Linked DNA regions of Homo sapiens. The protein of the gene in region 2 purifies or fractionates together with the protein of the main gene of each other region. This does not show direct contact. Each region holds a gene or a part of one and is shown on either strand. Other genes may lie near its edges. The genes, in order: RAB11A, ATP11A, TMEM230 and OMA1.

Region 1 (4,989 bases), on a different chromosome or scaffold from region 2:
AAGAGAAAGAAAAGGACAAAGCAGATGTGGTAAAATATTAACATCTGAGGAATATGGGTGAAGGATATTTGCAAATTCTTTTTACTATTATTTCAACCTCTTTAAATTTGAAATTGTCAAAATGCAAAGTTAAAATAAAAAAGTAAAAGGTATGTATTAAAAACATCCTTTAGTGAACCTGAGAAAAGACAAAGCTGTACTGAAATTCAGAGGCGGAGCAATCTACCAGTCTCACTCTCATACTAGTAAACTACCTCTAAAAAAATACCATCAGCAAAATCATCTCATGGAGTCACTTTCAAATTCATGGGTGTCAAGAATGCCATGGGTCTATTCTGAAACCAACAACACAATTAACTCTGAAGTAACAATGTAAATTTTCTGATATATAATTTTACAACTTAAAATTTTTGGCCAGGCATGGTGGCTCATGCCTATAATCCCAGCACTTTGGGAGGCCAAGGCAAGCAGATGGCTTGAGCTCAGGAATTCAAGACCAGACTGGGCTCCATCTCAATTTTTAGAAATTTTAAAGCTATTTTTTCTTTCAGCAATATCAAAACACAACGTAAATACTCCCTTAAGACTGTTAACATTTAAGGTAGAATCAAGTGCAATAAAGAGTCTGTCCTCTTCACTGTTTTCTCTATGCATTCACACTTCCACTGGCATACAGGAGGAAGAAAGTTTAGAACAAACATCCTAACACCTGCAGAACAACACAGATGTCTGCTGCCACATGCAGTGATCTCTGATCCTACAGACCAACAGTGAGATTTATGCAGGAAGCTGAGGAAACAGTGAATATAGAAAGGAAAAGTGGTAGCAAGTGAAACTAAAGTCTTCTTTGCTTTCAAGCAACAATTAAGCTGTAACAAAAGTTCAATCTAGAGTGAATTTTAAGAAAAGCAACTATATGTTCATCTTTTTTTTTCTTTTTGAGACAGGATCTCACTCTGCCCACAAGGCTGGAGTGCAGTGGCATGATCTCGGCTCATTGCAGCCTAAACCTCCCAGGCTCAAGCAATCCTCCCACCTCAGCTGGGACTACAGGCGCACACACTACCATGCCTGGCTAATTTTTTTGTGTTTTTTTTTTTTTTTTTTTTTTTTAGAGACAGGGTTTTACCATGTTGCCCAGGCTGGTCTTGAACTTTTGAGATCACTGCATGTGGCAGCAGACATCTGTGTTGTTCTACAGGTGTTAGGATGTTTGAGCTCAAGCGATCCGCCTGCCTCAGCCTCCCAAAATGCTGGGATTACAGGCGTGCATCAACATGCCCAGCTCTTAAAGGGCTCAATTTTAAGTACCGACTAGTTCATGTTTGAGTGGATCAGAAGCTCAATGTTACAAAATGATGCATAAAATAGTTAACTGCAGATGGAAGACTTGGGCTCATCTTCACTTAATATCAGAATAAATGGGCCAGAATTACAGCAGAGGAGATTTGATGGAACATAAAAAATATTCCAACAATGAGGACTGTCTAAAAAGTTTTTTCAGATGAGACTTTCTGAGGCCTTAAAATGCTCACACATCTTTAAGGTAATTTAATTCACATGTTTTAAGACTATGACTCTGAGGAGCAGGGAGGTTCAGTGACTTTAGTTAAACGGGGAGTAGAAGCAAAGTGATAAAAATGTAATGCCCTAGAACTCCTGGGTCTCAATCTAGTACTCTACATGTTGACTTAATAAAATGTACACAAATGGCTATAAAGAAAACAAGGACTTGCAGACATACTACATATTTAATCAAATCTTGCTTGCTTAAAACAATCTGCAGTGAAACTTTGACAGAGAACATTCTAAAGGAAAGCTACTGTGTTCCAAAGACTGCTTATCCAACCCCAGCACTATTCTTCTGATAACAGAAAAGAATTATAATAAAATAGGTACATAAATCTCCAATTTTCTCATGCCTTAATTGCCGTTCAGCTACTAATTTGCCAACTGTTCTCTATATACCAGGGATAGATAAGTAATTTACAGTATTCAAAATGGGTACTTTACAGGTACTCATTTTTGAAGTCTAGGGCAGTGACAGACCATTCTTTGCTAAGGGTTACTGAGACAAAAAACCTTTAGGTCACAAAAGTCAAGTCAAATCCTATCACAAGATTTTATAAATATAAGCCTTCTCTCAAAAAAGAAATAACAAAACTCCTCAAAATATATATGAATTTTATAGATGGAGAAATTAAGGCCTAAAAGGGTTAGGTAACTTGCCTAAGATTGTACAACTAACAGTAAGTGGAGGAGCCAGGACTAGAACCCAAGTCAGGCTTCCAAATCTTAACTCCTTGACTTTACGCTTACATTTTTACAGTAAAAGAAGATAACATGTTAAAGTTAAAATCTGTTAATCTCTAATACAGGGGCTGCATACAAACAATAAATCAAAACTTGTTACATTATAATTGGAAACTCAATCATATCTCTGTATAGACTTTTTAGAACAATGCCACGTAAAACTATACTATATATTAAGACCACATTTTAAATCATGAGTTCTTAAAAGTAACATACAATTTAAAAGTATTTAAAAACAACCCATCAAAGTACTAATTAGAAGATTAAGACTAATCTTACTAATAAATCTGGTTATTCTAATAGTTTCAGGATAAATATGAGTGAACACTTCTTATCTCAGAGGCTGACCTGGTCATTCACATTCCAAAACAGCATGAACTCCATCTCTTTCCAACTACTTTTTAAAACTTTTCTATATGCAATCATTGGCTGATTTTATCTACCAATTATCTCCCATGATACAATATAGAATACGCAAGGGATACCCTTCTTCTGTATCATGGGAGAATTTTATTTTGTCGCTATAATTTTTAAAAATGTTTTTTCCCTAGCTTTGCCTTTACTAAATTTAAAAAAGGGCATTTATATCTTTCTATAGCTGGGATCTCAATATTTACCTCATAAAAGTACATTTAAACATTACTTTGTGACCATGAAGAATGGAATACCTGGACTGAAGTAATAATGGAAGTGAATGAATTATTTTCAAAGTATTTTTCCCACTATAAATCAGATGAATTAGGACAACTGAAGCTCAGTGAGCAAGGGTTGTAGTTAATTTTGCACTCTAAACAGCTTTTGCTAGAGTAGCTCTCAAATGATAGTCACTCTCGGCTGATATATAGTTTAGTTACTGATTAGTTTGTTTAAATTACCTTCCTAAAACTTCTAGTCCTACTGGTGTAATCTGAAAATACAAGTCTTACCTGTTAAAATTGTCTGAAAAGCAGCTTCTACATTTGTAGAGTCTAGGGCCGAAGTTTCAATGAATGACAAACCATTCTTTTCTGAGGGGAGACACAAAAGTTCAGTCTTGTTAAGTTTTAAAACAAGGAATAGGATATACTCAAGCCCTCAAAAGGAAAAATAACAGAACTTTTTAAAACTTAAGACCTCCTCAACTTCTGGGACAGTAAGGGCACCATTCTGTTTACACTTTATTTATTTACTTACTTTATTTACTTCTTTATATAAGTAGAGATGCAGGTCTCACTAGGTTGCCCAGCCTGGTCTTGAACTCCTGGCCTCAAGAGTTTCTCCTGCCTCCATCTCCCAAAATGCTGAGATTACAGGCATGAGCCACCATGCCCGACCCTACTTACACTTTAATATTTACACTTTAATAGATTAAAAATAATAGCAAGAGAGCTGGGCATGGTGGCTCACTCCTGTAATCCCAGGACTTTGGCAGGCCAAGGCAGGCGGATTGCTTGAGCCCAGGAGTTCAAGACCAGCCTGGGCAACATGGCAAAACACTGGAGAGAGGTTTTGCTCTCTCTATATAAAGAATACTAAAAATTAGCTGAGCGTGGTGACACACACCAGCAGTCTCAGCTACTTAGGAGGCTGAGGTGGAAGATCACTAGAGCCCAGGAGGTCGAGGCTGCAGTGAGCCTTGACTGTGCCACTCCACTCCAGAATGGGTCACAGAGTGAGATCCTGGCTCCCAAAAAAAAAAAAAAAAAAAGTGAGAAATTGTCAATTGGCTCCTTAATTAAAATAAATACTTGTTATATCTAAGTACTACTCACTAGTGACGAATGACACCACTTAAAATGTGGTAAAAATGTATCAAGTGCCCAGTTATTTCCATCTCTTGCTATCCTCTCCATCAACTACATTGGCTATAGTATTCCGTATGTTGTAGCCATATTATTTACAATAAAGCTATTCTTGCATGGGAAATTTAAAAAACTGTTACAGAAAGTTATTCATAGCATAAGCATTAGTGCAAAGGCAAGACTTTCTCTCTTTTTTTGTTTGTTTTGTTTTGTTTTTTTGGGACGGAGTCTCGCTCTTTCGCCCAGGCCGGACTGCAGTGGCGCTATCTCGGCTCACTGCAAGCTCTGCTCCCGGGTTCACGCCATTCTCCTGCCTCAGCCTCCCGAGTAGCTGGGACTACAGGCGCCCGCCACCGCGCCCGGTTTTTTGTATTTTTAGTAGAGACGGGGTTTCACCATGTTAGCCAAGATGGTCTCAATCTCCTGACCTCATGATCCACTCACCTCAGCCTCCCAAAGTGCTGGGATTACAGGCATGAGCCACCACGCCCGGCCGCAAGACTTTCACTAGCCACAATGCACAATGTTGTCTTCTGGCATGCTGTCCCTACCAGAACAGGGGCAAGAGACACGTGAATTCTTTATGAAGCCAAAAAGTTACAGCTCCTAAGCAGCTGCATCCCTGTTGGTCCCTGACACTCCCTGAGCCTCTGCCTTTCACTCACATAGAGCTCACGTACAGCAGCCTTTGTAAACACAGAAACATAACAGAAAAAGAGACAGAATATACAATGTTTATATTCATTTTTTGGCAGCAAAATATTAGTGTTTTAATGACTCAAAGCAAAAAAGCTATACAGTCATCACAAACTTTCAAAACAATTCTTGCTAAGCATTCATGTTTACCTCTCTGAAACTATTATAACCTATTACTCTCATTGGAAGGTATCAAAAC
Region 2 (4,989 bases):
AGAAAGGCCACTAGGAGCCCACCGTGGCCCTGGGGAAGGCAGAGGCCAGCACCGGAGCCCACCGAGGGGCGGCCAGCCCGCAGGACGCCACAGGAAGCAGCCCACGGAAGGCCCCAGGGCTCCCAGAGGCTGCTGCGTGGGCCGCCCCTCAGGCTGGACACGCAGGCACCCACCTGGCCAGGCCCTCACCTCGTCCACCCCGCCACCCACTGCGCGCAAGCACTGCGCCCCACGCATCCTCCACCCGCCTCGCCCACCCGCCAGCCTGCGCACGCACTGCCCCCAACCCCACTCTCTTTTTCTCAGCACCGTCGCCTGCGGGGCACCCCAACACTCACTGTGGTGGTTTCCTGTTCGCCTCCCCCATTCCAAGGGGGCCCCAGAGGGATGGGACTTGGGTCTCTGTCCTTCCCGGCTCACTGGCGTGTCTCTGAGCACACAGGGGCGCTCGCTAACTGCAGCTGGGATCACAAAAGCCCCACGGAGTCGCTGAGGTGGAGGGCAAGGGCAGAGAGGGGCCCGAGGGAGGTGGGCCTGGGGGTGATGGAGACCTTGGTAAGGGAACCCCCCGCGGTAGGCACAGAAGAGACAGGAGAAGGAAGGACGGGCCAGCTACGCGGGGTAACCTAAGAAAAACGGTAGCTGGAAGCCAAAAATGAGCACGGTGACCGCTGGGAAATATGGGGTCTAAAGCGGTGCCAACAGCGGGACGGCAAGCAGCAGGGCAGACAGTGTCACTCAGAGAGGGAGAGAGACGGGGCCGCAGCACACACGGGACTGGACTTCGGCAGAACGGGTCACTCGCTCCAACCGGAGGAGGCAAGCGCAGAGGCAGAAAGGCTGCTGGGCGTGGCAGGGGCGTTCCCACCAGTGACCACCGCTCTCCCCGGGAGAGCAGGGCAAGGTCACCCACTCTCCACGTGAAGAGGAGTGCGGGGAGAAGGTTCCGGAAAGCCCAAGGTGAGAGGCGGTCTCCTTAAGAAGCCCAGAAGCATGGACGGTGATGCAGCCGCAGGTCCATGCGCGCAACAAAGACGCCCCGTGCACTGGGCACCCAGCGTGCACGAGCGCCGTGACCTGTCCCGTCACTGCACAGACCCACCAGGTGGGCACCATCATAGTCCCCACCTTGCAGATGGGGCACCAAGCGTACAGGGGGCAACCAACTTGCCAAGGCCACGCAGCCGTCAGCCGAGACGGAACTTGAATGTGGGTCTGTCAGACTCCGACGCCTAACCTCGGCACCTCTGGGATGTACCATTTTGTTCTTCTCAGATAATAATATCCAAGTGAAAGAGAAAATCATCCCTTATCTGATCTTCTTGAATTTCTACTCTGTAAAACTTGCTTGCTATTGATTTTTATTGCAAATAAATAGCATTTTTACCAGCATTTAACTTGGTTAAAAAAACATTGATAAGTCTGGGACTTGAGAATCTTTTATTAACCCTGTTTCTATTGAACATATGCTCCAAGCACCAGAGAACAATTTGTATTTTGGGTTTTAGGGTTTAATACATCTGTAAATAGAGGATTTCATGTGTAGTTAAGCAACTATGTATTTTTATTCATGGATTCAACACAGTTTTAACTAATTGTAAACTGAAGACAGTGTTCTTATCCCTAGAAATTTAGCTGACTATAGCCAAACCTAATAATACAAACTTTTTTCCCTCTAGGTTATTAAATTCACTCCCTGGCAAGAAATAAAAGCACCTCAAGATGCTTGTTCCTAATAAGCAGATATTCAACAGGGTTCCAAAAAGCAATGGAAATGATTCAACCTTTGTGTAGACACAAAGGTGAAATTATGCATCTGGGCAGACTGCTTTAGAATGTCCAGGTGGAAGACACGAGGCCCTGAAGACAAGAAGGGTGCTTGGTGAATTCGTGTGATGAGCTGCCTGGTTAAACATTTGTTCATTATGAACACTTTACGAGTCTGTACTGCAGGCTTGCCACCACACTGCTGGAGACAGATTATTAGTCTTGGATTCTATGCCTCAGGATTCACTTATTTCAAATACCTGAAGACCTTGGCAGCTAAAGCAGCTTAACTTAGTGCTCCTGTGGTGTAGACTCCAGCAGCTGAACAACAGCAAGGTCCCACTGGATCGTCTAATCCTGGATTAGGAAAAGAAACTCCAAAATTATGTGGCATTTCTAAAATTTTAAAACAGGGGCTGGCATAACTGAGTTAAATAAATAAGTCTGTCTTTCAGAAGGGGCAACCTCACAGTTGAACACTGATGTTCACATTATACACCATTCGGTAATAAATAAAAGAAGCAGATATGTATGCATGCATATAAATAGCTGGACTTTCTAGAAGGTTTAACACACTCTAATATAGCACTGCTTCAAGTTCTCGGGAAGCAAAAATGTTTATTTTTCTCTTAGAAAAAAACTTATAACAGTTTGTGTTGAAAGTAATTATCTACTGTCAGCAAGGAAATCCTTCAGATCCTTCAATGTTTTCTATCTTAGAATGTTAAGAAGCAAGAATGGTAAGGTAGAAACAAGCAGAAGCTCTGACAGGCAAAAGAACAAAACTAACAAGGAATATCTGGGCTGAATCATTGAAAGAAGATTATAGGACCATAACAAGACTGAGTTCTTGACCCACAGAACTCTGAAGAAAAATCAAATGCCCTACATAGAGGCATGGAAGGGAAGAGGGAGGGAAGCATCCTGCCCACGCCGGGATGCTCAGCCTTACAGAGATCAAGGGCTGTTTTACCACAGCGTGTAAAGCTTTCTGAATCCTACCTGAGCTCCACACCATGCTCAGTGTCAGGGTGCCCGGTTTACCTCTCCTGTGACCCACGACGCCAGCAGGCCGGGACCCACAGGTAGCTGAGCAGCAGCACTGGCAGCCCATAGGTTTGCTCTCTCCCCAGCCAACCCTACCCAGGGACTCAGCTATGTTAACAGCCAGGCATGACAAACGGACTGAGAGCTTCCCCATTCTTGGCTCTCCACCCAGATTACCTCATTCAACCCTCACAATAGCTATGAAATGAGTACTGCTCTTACCCTCAGAGGAGAAAACTGAGGCAGAAGGAATTAAGCCACTTGCCCAAGGCCACATGGCTAAGAAGGGCAGGGAGGCTCCCACTCAGCATTCAGGCCACTGCCCAGAGAGTATCTAAGAAAAGTATCTAAGCTACCCGCTGAGGCTGCCCTGGTTCCTCTCGGAACTTAAACTACCTGAATCGGTGTTGCTCACCTTACAGCTCTGAAGAGGAAATGGAACTCGCTCTCCATCCATGCTGTTAAAAATACTCTTATTTATTTTGAGACGAGTTTCGCTCTTGTTGCCCAGGCTGGAGTGCAATGGTGCGATCTCAGCTCACTGCAACCTCCGCCTTCTGTGCTCAAGCAATTCTCCTGCCTCAGCCTTCTGAGTAGCTGGGATTACAGGCACCCGCCACCATGCCCGGCTAATTTTTGTATTTTTAGTAGAGACAGGGTTTCACCATGTTGGCCAGGTTGGTCTTGAACTCCTGATGTCAGGCGATCCACCCACCTCGGCCTCCCAAAGTGCTGGGATTACAGGCATGAGCCACCGCGCCTGGCCTAGAAGTGCTTTTAAAGTGTTACGTCATGGAGGTCAAACTACCTCATGGCACATGCACTACCCCATGGCTCATATGCTACCCCATAGCACATACACTACTCCACAACACATACGCCAGTCCACGGCACACACGCTACCCCATGGCTCCCACAGCACATACACCACCCCACGGCACACACACTCTCCACCCCGTCCCCTCTCCCCGTACCCACAGCTCATACATCACCCCAGAGAGCATACACCACCTCACGCCCCCGACAGCACATACATCACCCTAGGGAGCATACACTACCCCACAGCACATACACTACCCCACGGCACACACGCTTTTCCCCACGCCCCCCAGAGCACATACATCACCCCAGGGAGCATACACTACCCCATAAGCACAAGCACTCCTCATGGTATACAAACACGGCACCATTTACAAATACAAAGTATCTCTGCATGGCTCCGGTCCATCCAAACACCCAAACCACCAGTAACACACAGTGTGGAGTACCTGGCTACCCTGGCCTAACCTTCATCTGTTCTCTCACTCATTTGCCTCTGCTATCTCTCCAGGGTTAATCCACAATAAAATGCCTACAGCAATGTTTTCCAAGGACTTCTTTATCTTTTAGCCACCCTCACACATCAGAAGGAGCTGGAAAGCTTTCTTTGTCCCAGGAATTCTGACTATGTGAACACCAAGAAGGAACAGGGTCTATTTATCTATCCTTTTTAATAAAGTAAGTCACATAAGGAAACCATGAGGAAATATGAGTATTCAATCCCAGACTCTTTTTTCTGTAGCAAAAGGAAATATAATTTAGTCCTACATAGTGGACGATAACGCAATTACAAGAAAACAGATCATGACTGTTTCTGGAAAAAGTCAAATTAGTTTAATACCATAGACATGAACTTAAAATGATAGAGATGAATGGCTCTGTGTGTAAATATGGGTGAGGTAGCCAGATGAATACACTGCAAAAAACACAGGTGGAATGAGAAAAACAGAAATAATATTATCCCACAACTCGTATTCCCGAGACGTTATCCAATAATGTATATGCTGGAAAAGTTCACTAAAGAATATTTACCGCTTAGATTAAAAGAAAATGTGATGCCATAAGCGTAATAATACAGCAAAGGGGAATTAAAAATGCAAGCTACGCAAACACTTATATAGATCTATATAACAGAAAACAGCTGAAGGCCTGGAGAAAGGGAGTCAAGCATCAAAATTGGACGTCTGTCTGTCCCCCTCCCAAGATGAAGGGGTCAGAAACCGGCTGGGAAGGGGGGATTCTCCAAAGGGTGAGCCGGGCTGGCCCATCCATCTCTCATTTCTATGGAAAGAGGCTGCACATTAGCCCCACAACGTGACCCTCCTTTTTAACACTGAGTGTTAGAAGGGAACGGAA
Region 3 (4,989 bases), on a different chromosome or scaffold from region 2:
TCACTACTTTCAGTGCTTGGGATGGGACAGAGAGGTGGGCGCTTCTGGAGGCACTAGTATAGCCAGGCCTGTATCCAAATTTACAAGGGGCCCGGCACAGTGGCCTGTAATCCCAGCACTTTGGAAGGCTGAGTTGGGCAGAACACTTGAGGTCAGAAGTTCGAGACCAGCCTGGCCAACGTGGTAAAACCCCATCTCTACTAAAAATGCAAAAATTAGCCAGGCGTGGTGGCACACGCCTGTAATCCCAGCTACTCAGGAGGCTGAGGCAGGAGGATTGCTTGAACCCAGGAGGCAGAGGCAGCAGTGAATGGAGATTGCGCCACTGCACTCCATCCTGGACAGCAAAGTGAGACTATCGCAAAGAAAAAAAAAAAAACTGAGTTCAAGACCAGCCCGGCCACCATGGTGAAAACCAGTTCGTTACTTAAAAAATACAAAAATTAACTAGGCATGGTGGTGCATGGCTATAATCCCAACTACTCGGGAGGCTGAGGCAGGAGAATCGTTTGAACCTGGGAGGCGGTGGTTGTAGTGAGCTGAGATCAACCCACTGCACTCTAGCCTGTGTGACAAAGCAAGACACCGTCTCCAAAAAATACAAACAAACAACAACAACAAAAAAACCCCACAAATTTACGGCAAGAAACTTTACAGATCTTTTGCATTAAAAGGTTGATCTCTATCAAGGGGAAATAGGCAAAATGCTGATGTGAGTGTATTCCATTCTCTGCCCTCTTCTCCCTCCCTGTCAAACAAGAGAATCATTTGAGTATATGCTCCTCTTGCTTTTTCTTAAGAGCGGGAGCAGGGGACAGGCAATGCTGTGGTGTCAGGTGGACCTAGATTTAAGTCCCCATTATTCTACCTAGTCTCTATGTGACTTTGGAAAAATTAAAAGTCAGGGAATCTTGGTGGCAAAATAAACTGGAATGTGATTCTTGGTGAGTGTCTTCACTGTCATTCTACAAGGACAGACCAGACTAGATATTTAATACATAGTGAGAATCTTTTCACTGTGTCAGAGGCATATCTGGTTTTCCATATGCATATGCCTCTGACACAATGAAAATTTAGCAGTGAAGTGTAAATTGCCCATTGCTAGTCTGACATGGCAGCCCAGAACTCCAGTGCACAGCATCTAATAATCCTGAACTCATTGGCTATAATGCACCATTGTCATCTACAGACAATAACGGGTTTTTTGTTTTTAAACTGTAGCTGTGTCAGCGTGTTATGATGCCGTCCCGTACCAACCTGGCTACTGGAATCCCCAGTAGTAAAGTGAAATATTCAAGGCTCTCCAGCACAGACGATGGCTACATTGACCTTCAGGTAAATGCAGAAGAGAACTGACAAGACTGACTGGCTGTGTTTCTGTTAAGTTAGCAGGAAGACCTTCCAGATGGAGATTTTGCTAACTGTCCTTGGGGATTAGAAGGAGCAACAAGAAGAAAACTCAGCTCTGAGACCCTTTCAGCCATAATCGCAGAAGAGGGCCGTGGCAGGGTAGTTTCAAACCAATTCCAGTATTGTCCATTTCTAAGAATTTTTAGTTGTAATGCGAGAGCCTTGTAGTTACAGGTTTTATTTACTTTATTCAGAAACTAATCAGATTGTGTTTTGTTAAGTGGAGTTTTTTGTTGTTGTTTCTTTTTTTAAGGAACTTTAAAATTTTTGTTAGGTGGAATTTTTTTTATCACTGTTTATTTACACTTTAGTCAAAGCCCGTTCACCTTTTAAGGGAGAAACTTATTACTAAAGCCAGCAGATTGTGGGAATCTTCCTTCTTTCCTGATGTCATGAGATCCAATTTATTAAAGGTATTCTTTGTGATAAATAGTAAGTAAAACACAGTATTTATTAAGTTTGTATCCTACCCTAACCATTTATAAACTAGTCAATACTACAGCATCTCCTTTTGCACACTTCCCCTTACAATAGAATGTTCTACGTGGAACTAGGGCCAACGAGGAAGTAGCAGGAAACCATCCTTTATAAATAAATAAATTACTCTTTGGACCCACATTTGAAGGAGAGATAAAAATAGATCTGGAAAGATCTGGGAAGCTTCCAGCCACTTAGGTCAGATACAACGATGAGCCAAACCTTGGAAAATTTGTCTCTGAATCTTAACCTTGAATTGAATTTGTTCATAAGGCAGGTTTACTTGCTATGTGGAACAAACAACTAATCATTTGGAATAAGCTGAAATTGCCTTCTTTTCCTTTTTTTTTTTTTTTTTTGGAGACGGAGTTTTAGTCTTGTTTCCCAGGCTGGAGTGCAGTGGCACAACCTCGGCTCACTGCAACCTCTGCCTCCCAGGTTCAAGCGATTCTCCTGCCTCAGCCTCCCAAGTAGCTGGGATTACGGGCATGCGCCACCACGCCCAGCTAATTTTGTATTTTTAGTAGAGACAGTGTTTCTCCATGTTGGTCAGGCTGGTCTTGAACTCCTGACCTCAGGTGATCATCCTGCCTCGGCCTCGCAAAGTGCTGGGATTATAGGCGTGAGCCACCTTGCCCAGCCTCTTGTTTTGTTTTGTTTTGTTTTTAAGATGTAGTCTTGCTCTGTTGCCCAGGCTGGACTGCAGTGGTGCAATCCTGGCTCACTGCAACCTCCCCCTCCTGGTTCAAGTGATTCTTGTACCTCAGCCTCCCTAGTAGCTGGGGGATTACAGGCATGCACCACCATGCCTGGCCAATTTTCGTATTTTTAGTATAGATGGGGTTTCGCCATGTTGGCCAGGCTGGTCTCGAACTCTTAACCTCCAGTGATTCACCCACTTCGGCCTCCCAAAGCGCTGGAATTACAGGCGTGAGTCACCGCGCCCAGCCTTTTTTTTTTTTTTTTGAGACAGGGTCTTGCTCTTTTGCCCAGGCTTGGGTACAGTGGCACAATCAAGACTCACTGTAACCTTGACCTTCTGGGCTCAAGTAGTCTTTTCACCTCAGCCTCCTGAATAGCTGGGACCACAAGCATGTGCCACCACACCCAGCTAATTTTAAAATTTTTTGTAGAGACAGGATCTCTTAAATCCCCATAAGTTAGTACAGCCATCTATGTGCCAGGCAGTTAATAAATATATATCTAACAAATGAATGACTGTAAAGTCATTTCTGTTTTTGTTTTAAAGAAAAGTTTCTTATGATACAATGAATGATTTATGGAATGAGATTCGAACTAGAGTGAATGACATTCCTCTGAGATTCCTTTGAGTAACTGTGAGAGCAATAACTAGAGCTTCATCTCTTGCCAGTCCCTTTTATTTCTCAGAGCTGCACTGGGTGGTAGGACATACTTAAGACACATAAAGTATCTAGTTTGGTTCTTAATTACCCTCCTGTTTTTGCTGTTGTTGTATTTGAAACAGGCTCTGGCTCTGTCACCCAGGCTGGAGTGCAGTGGTGCAATCTCAGCTCGCTGCCTCTTCACCTCCTGGGCTCAAGCCATCCTCCCAGCTTAGCGTCCCAAGTAGCCGGGACTGCAGGCACATGCCACCACGCCCGGCTAATTTTTGTATTTTTTGTAGAGACGAGGTTTCACCATGTTGCTCAGGCTGGTCTCAAACTCCTGAACTCAAGTGATCCGCCTGCCTCAGCCTCCCACATTGCTGGGATTACAGGTGCGAGCTCTCCTCCCTGTTTTAAAGTGTTTGAGACTGGGCTTGATGGCTTATACCTGTAATCCCAGCACTTTGGGAGGCAGAGGTGGAAGGACTCCCTTGAGCCCAGGAGTTGGAGACCACCCTGGGCAACATAGTGAGACCTCGTCTCTACAGAAAAATTTAAAAATTAGCTGGGCATGGTGACGTATACTTGTAGTCCCAGCTACTTGAGAGGATGAGGCAAGAGAATTGCTTGAGCCCAGGAGTTCGAGGCTGCAATGAGCTGTAATTGCACCACTGCACTCCAGCCTGGGTGATAGAGCAAGACTCCGTCTCTAAAATCATAAAAATTAGGCCGGGCGCGGTGGCTCACGCCTGTAATGCCAGCACTTTGGGAGGCCGAGGCGGGCGGATCACCTGAGGTCAGGAGTTCAAGCCCAGCCAGGTCAACAAGGTGAAACCCTGTCTCTACTAAAAATACCAAAAAAATTAGCTGGGTGTAGTGGCGGGCACCTGTAACCCCAGCTGCTCAGGAGGCTGAGACAGGAGAATCACTTGAATCCAGGAGGCAGAGGTTGCAGTGAGCCAAGATCACGCCATTGCTCTCTAGCCTGGGCAACAAGAACGAAACTCCATCTCAAAACAAACAAACAAAAACATAAAAATTACAAATAATTAATTAAATGTTTGAACCCAGGTATTTGCATTAATGTTCTTCGTTGTCTTTTTCATCTCTATTTCTCTTCCAGTTTAAGAAAACCCCTCCTAAGATCCCTTATAAGGCCATCGCACTTGCCACTGTGCTGTTTTTGATTGGCGCCTTTCTCATTATTATAGGCTCCCTCCTGCTGTCAGGCTACATCAGCAAAGGGGTAAGCTGACGGGCATGTGGGAATAAGTTGTGAGATTTTTAAAATGTTAGCCAAGGCTCTAGTGTGCGTGTGTGTGTGTGTGTGTGTGTGTGTGTGTGTGTGTGTGTGTTTGTCCGTCCCAGTGGTCTGTTTTTTTTGAGACAGGGTCTTGCTCTGTCATCCAAGCTAGAGTGCAGTGGCACAACCTTTACCTCCCTGGGCTCAAGCGATCCTCTCACCTCAGCCTCCCGAGTAGCTGGGACTACACGTGTGTGCCACCACACCCAGCTAATTTTATTTTTTATTTACTTATTTTTGTTTGTTTTATTTTGTGTAGAGACAGGGTTTCACTATGTTGCCCAGGCTGATCTCTAACTCCTGAGGTCAAGCAGTCTGCCTGCCTCAGCCTTCCAAAGTGCTGGGATTGCAGGTGTGAACCATTGCCCCTGGCCAATTTTTTTTCCAATTTTTATGGGTACATAGTAGGTGTATATACTTAGGGGATACATGAGGTATTTTGATACAGCCATG
Region 4 (3,500 bases), on a different chromosome or scaffold from region 2:
GGAACAATTCTAATGCCCAGTAACGGAGAAATACAAAGTAAATTACATGAGGGCAGGGACCATGACTATTCTGACCAATGTGTACCTAGCACCTTACTCACTGTGGTGTTCTAAATATTTGTTGTATTAAAAAGACTGAATAAGCGAATTTAAGGATAAGAGAAGAGTTTTTACTGAATACACAAAGATCTTAGGGGATGGCATCCTATTCCTCTCTTTGTTGCTTTGCATCTCTCATTGCCACACTCAGCTGTGCCAGTTGTTACCTGCTGGACTCCATACTCTCCCCCTTTACTGATGCCAGTGCAGTGCTTAAACATAGGCACTACACTGATATAGCAGCCATGACAGGTAAACTTCTCACTTGGGAAAGAAAATTAACATCATTGTAAAGGAACTAATGCAAGAGTGACCGTACGTCCCAATTTTGCAGAGACAGTCATGGCTCATGCCTGATGTCTCAGTGCAAATCTTGCTAGCATCTCATTTCATTCTCAAAGGTATCCCAGTTTGGACAGTAGGTCACCGTTTAGCTGAGGATCTGACTTTCTGTTTACTTAAGTGCTGTAAGTGCTATAGTTGGGAAACATTTTCTTGTTGTGTCAATTCAGTTTACTTAAACATTTACTTAACACTCACTAGATATAAGGAAATCTTAAATCTGCTGTGAAATACAAAGAAAAATAAGACAAGACCACTGCCACTGAAGAATTTCACGTTAAGTAATGTTTTTTCAACTCTCCAGCTTACCTTGGTAACTCAGAGCCTAATCAGAGCTAGAAGTGCTCCTAGACCCAAGCTTCTGCCCTGACCCCATTCACTTAGAGAACGTCTATCTGGCTCGCATCTGACTACAAGTCCCTCTCTCCTGTGGGACTCAATGAAATGTTAGCATACAAGAACCTGTGCCCCTACCATACCCCACTCAGGGTATCTGGAATAATGGAATTCCTTGCCCAGATATGTTTGAGCCTGCTTTCAGGGCCCATCTGGACCTCTTCCTTGAACACATTCACACAAGGCCCTTTACAGTGCCAGATAAGCTAGGGCTGGGAGAGGGGGCAGATGGCAGGCTAGTGGCAAGAGCTACACAGTAAGCTCCCTGCAATCTTACATGTTCTGAAATTCAAGAATTCTAGTTTTGTACCTGGACTTCCAGGTAATTTCGAATGTGTATTCTTCAAAGTAGGAGAATAGAACAGATTTTAAGTAGTAGTGTATTAGCTTGACTTACTGCTTTTAGGTGTTTAGAGACATGGTATCTGGGCCTCCATTTTCATTCTTTCCATGGACCCCACAAATATTAGAGGCAGGCTGTTTAGAGTAAAACTTAAAATCCTTAGCATGACCTGTGAGGTCCTACATAATCTGCTCCTGCCCTCCACCCTGCTCCACTCGGCTGTACCTGCTTCTTCACTGTTCCAAAACACCCCAGGCACGCTCCCATCTCCCTTGTACTCGCAGCTCCCTCTTGGAATGATTTTTCCCTAGGTTGCCACATGGTCTCTTTCCTCATGTCCTTCAGGTCTGTCCCCCTCTTGACCCCCAAAGTCATTATCCTATCAGTGAGGCCTTGCCTGGATAGTCTTTCTAAGATTTTACCAGTCCCTCAAACACTGTCTCCTTTACTGCCTTATTTACTTCCCTTAAGACACATCAGTATCAGAAAGCCAGAAGTCGTAAAAAACTGAATTAGCTTTTTCCCCTAAATGTCTTTCTTTTAAAACTCCTAAATATTAAGACCATTTATCCTTAAAAATTATTTTGGCTCTTATATCTTAAAATTATCCATATACCCACTTTGAAGAGTTAAATAGTTCTAAGGCTAGTTACTTAAATCAGCAGCCAGTCCCTCAACCCTGCCATCAGTTTCAGGGGTAACTATTTCCAATTCTATTGGACGATTCTTTTAGTATTTCCCATTGTGTCTAAATAACATGCTTATGTTGCTACATTCTAACTTCAATTTTGGGCCTTAATTATTTTCCACCTTACAGGATGAGACGTAAGCCCTCTCTTTCCAGTGTCACACCCTGTGCATGTGCACACACATGCAGCTCTCCCCTTCTCAGTATGATGAAATTGTACTTTTTGGTTTCATCAAGATTTGGTATTTTAAACTGTAAGCACTAGTCATAGCTGAGCCCCATAGTACACTGTGATTACTTTTCCTTCCTTTGCAATGTTTTATTTCTCCTGGAGTTAAAAATTGTCATGATTTTGATTTGTTTACTTTTCTAAGTATATTAGTCCATTCTCATGCTGCTAATGAAACATACCTGAGACTAGGTAATTTATGAAGGAAAGAGGTTTAATTGACTTACAGTTCCATATGGCTGAGGATGGCCTCACAATCATGGTGGAAGGCGAATGAGGAGAAAAGTCATGTCTTACATGGCGGCAGTCAAGAGAGCATATGCAGGGGGAACTGCCCTTTATAAAACCATCAGATCTCGTGAGACTTAATCACTATCATGAGAACAGCACGGGAAACACCCACCTCCATGATTCAGTTACCTCCCATGACATGTGGGAATTATGGGAACTGCAATTCAAGATGAGATTTGGGTGGAGACATATGCAAACCATATCACTAGGTTATTATCATCAATTTTACCCAAGACTGTATCAGTTATGTATATCTTTTTTCAGTATATTCAGTCATCTATGTTCTGCAGTTTTTCTTGAAAAAAATCTCTCATAGAGCCTTTTTAAATCTGAATGATTCTCCGGTCTGCTAGAGTTTAACTGAAACCATAGATGTATCTCTAAGATTTGTTTACCCTCAAAACAGCATTAGGGCAGTTGTTACAGATTATTAATACTATTGTTGTTGTTTTTAAAATAATACTATTTGACCAAATCATGAAAACAACTGTTCACTGTAGATTTTTCAGTGGTTCTCTTTTATGTGTTATAATCAAGATACCTTTTATTAAAAAAATAACAATACATTCTTTGTTTTACATGGAGCATATTAGGGATTACTGAAACAATCTGAATACATTGATGTATATATATAGTATTTTTTTATTTTATTATTTCTTTATAGGCTCTCAAAATTAGAGAGATGTGTAATTGTCCACCACTGTCTAATCCAGACCCTCGATTACTATTCAAACTCAGCACGAAGCATTTTCTTGAAGAATCAGAGAAAGAAGACCTAAATATCACGAAGAAACAGAAAATGGATACTCTTCCTATTCAAAAACAGGAGCAAATACCATTAACATACATAGTTGAGAAAAGAACGGGCAGTTGAATTAAAATTTATGAGACACAAGATATATGAAGAATGTTGCAGTCCTTATCATTTTATGTTACTTTTTAAAAAATGATGTTTGAAGTGAAAAAAAAAAGGATATTCAGGGTCAAATCATGTACATTACAGATATTATCTAAATTCTTCTAGAATTTATTTTTCATGAAATATTGATGTATTTTAATCTATGTTAAAATATCTTCAATGAGGAAAATGTCACAGAATAAATTTATATTAC

Evidence for each region.
Region 1: the proteins of ATP11A (region 2) and RAB11A purify together in Homo sapiens (co-immunoprecipitation; one large-scale study listed by IntAct). This does not show direct contact.
Region 3: the proteins of ATP11A (region 2) and TMEM230 purify together in Homo sapiens (affinity purification with mass spectrometry; one large-scale study listed by BioGRID and IntAct). This does not show direct contact.
Region 4: the proteins of ATP11A (region 2) and OMA1 purify together in Homo sapiens (affinity purification with mass spectrometry; one large-scale study listed by BioGRID and IntAct). This does not show direct contact.

Annotation. Positions count from the first base shown.
Region 1 is NC_000015.10:65,878,002-65,882,990, reverse strand, and holds part of RAB11A (ras-related protein Rab-11A), read right to left. Parts: intron 3,321-4,989; coding exon 3,240-3,320; intron 1-3,239. UniProt on the Homo sapiens protein: The small GTPases Rab are key regulators of intracellular membrane trafficking, from the formation of transport vesicles to their fusion with membranes.
Region 2 is NC_000013.11:112,692,261-112,697,249, reverse strand, and holds part of ATP11A (phospholipid-transporting ATPase IH), read right to left. Parts: intron 780-4,989; exon of another isoform or gene 1-779. UniProt on the Homo sapiens protein: Catalytic component of a P4-ATPase flippase complex which catalyzes the hydrolysis of ATP coupled to the transport of aminophospholipids, phosphatidylserines (PS) and phosphatidylethanolamines (PE), from the outer to the inner leaflet of the plasma membrane.
Region 3 is NC_000020.11:5,105,678-5,110,666, reverse strand, and holds part of TMEM230 (transmembrane protein 230), read left to right. Parts: intron 1-1,221; coding exon of another isoform or gene 1,222-1,236; coding exon 1,237-1,335; intron 1,336-4,356; coding exon 4,357-4,479; intron 4,480-4,989.
Region 4 is NC_000001.11:58,480,727-58,484,226, reverse strand, and holds part of OMA1 (metalloendopeptidase OMA1, mitochondrial precursor), read left to right. Parts: intron 1-3,052; coding exon 3,053-3,262; 3' UTR 3,263-3,500. UniProt on the Homo sapiens protein: Metalloprotease that is part of the quality control system in the inner membrane of mitochondria. Activated in response to various mitochondrial stress, leading to the proteolytic cleavage of target proteins, such as OPA1, UQCC3 and DELE1.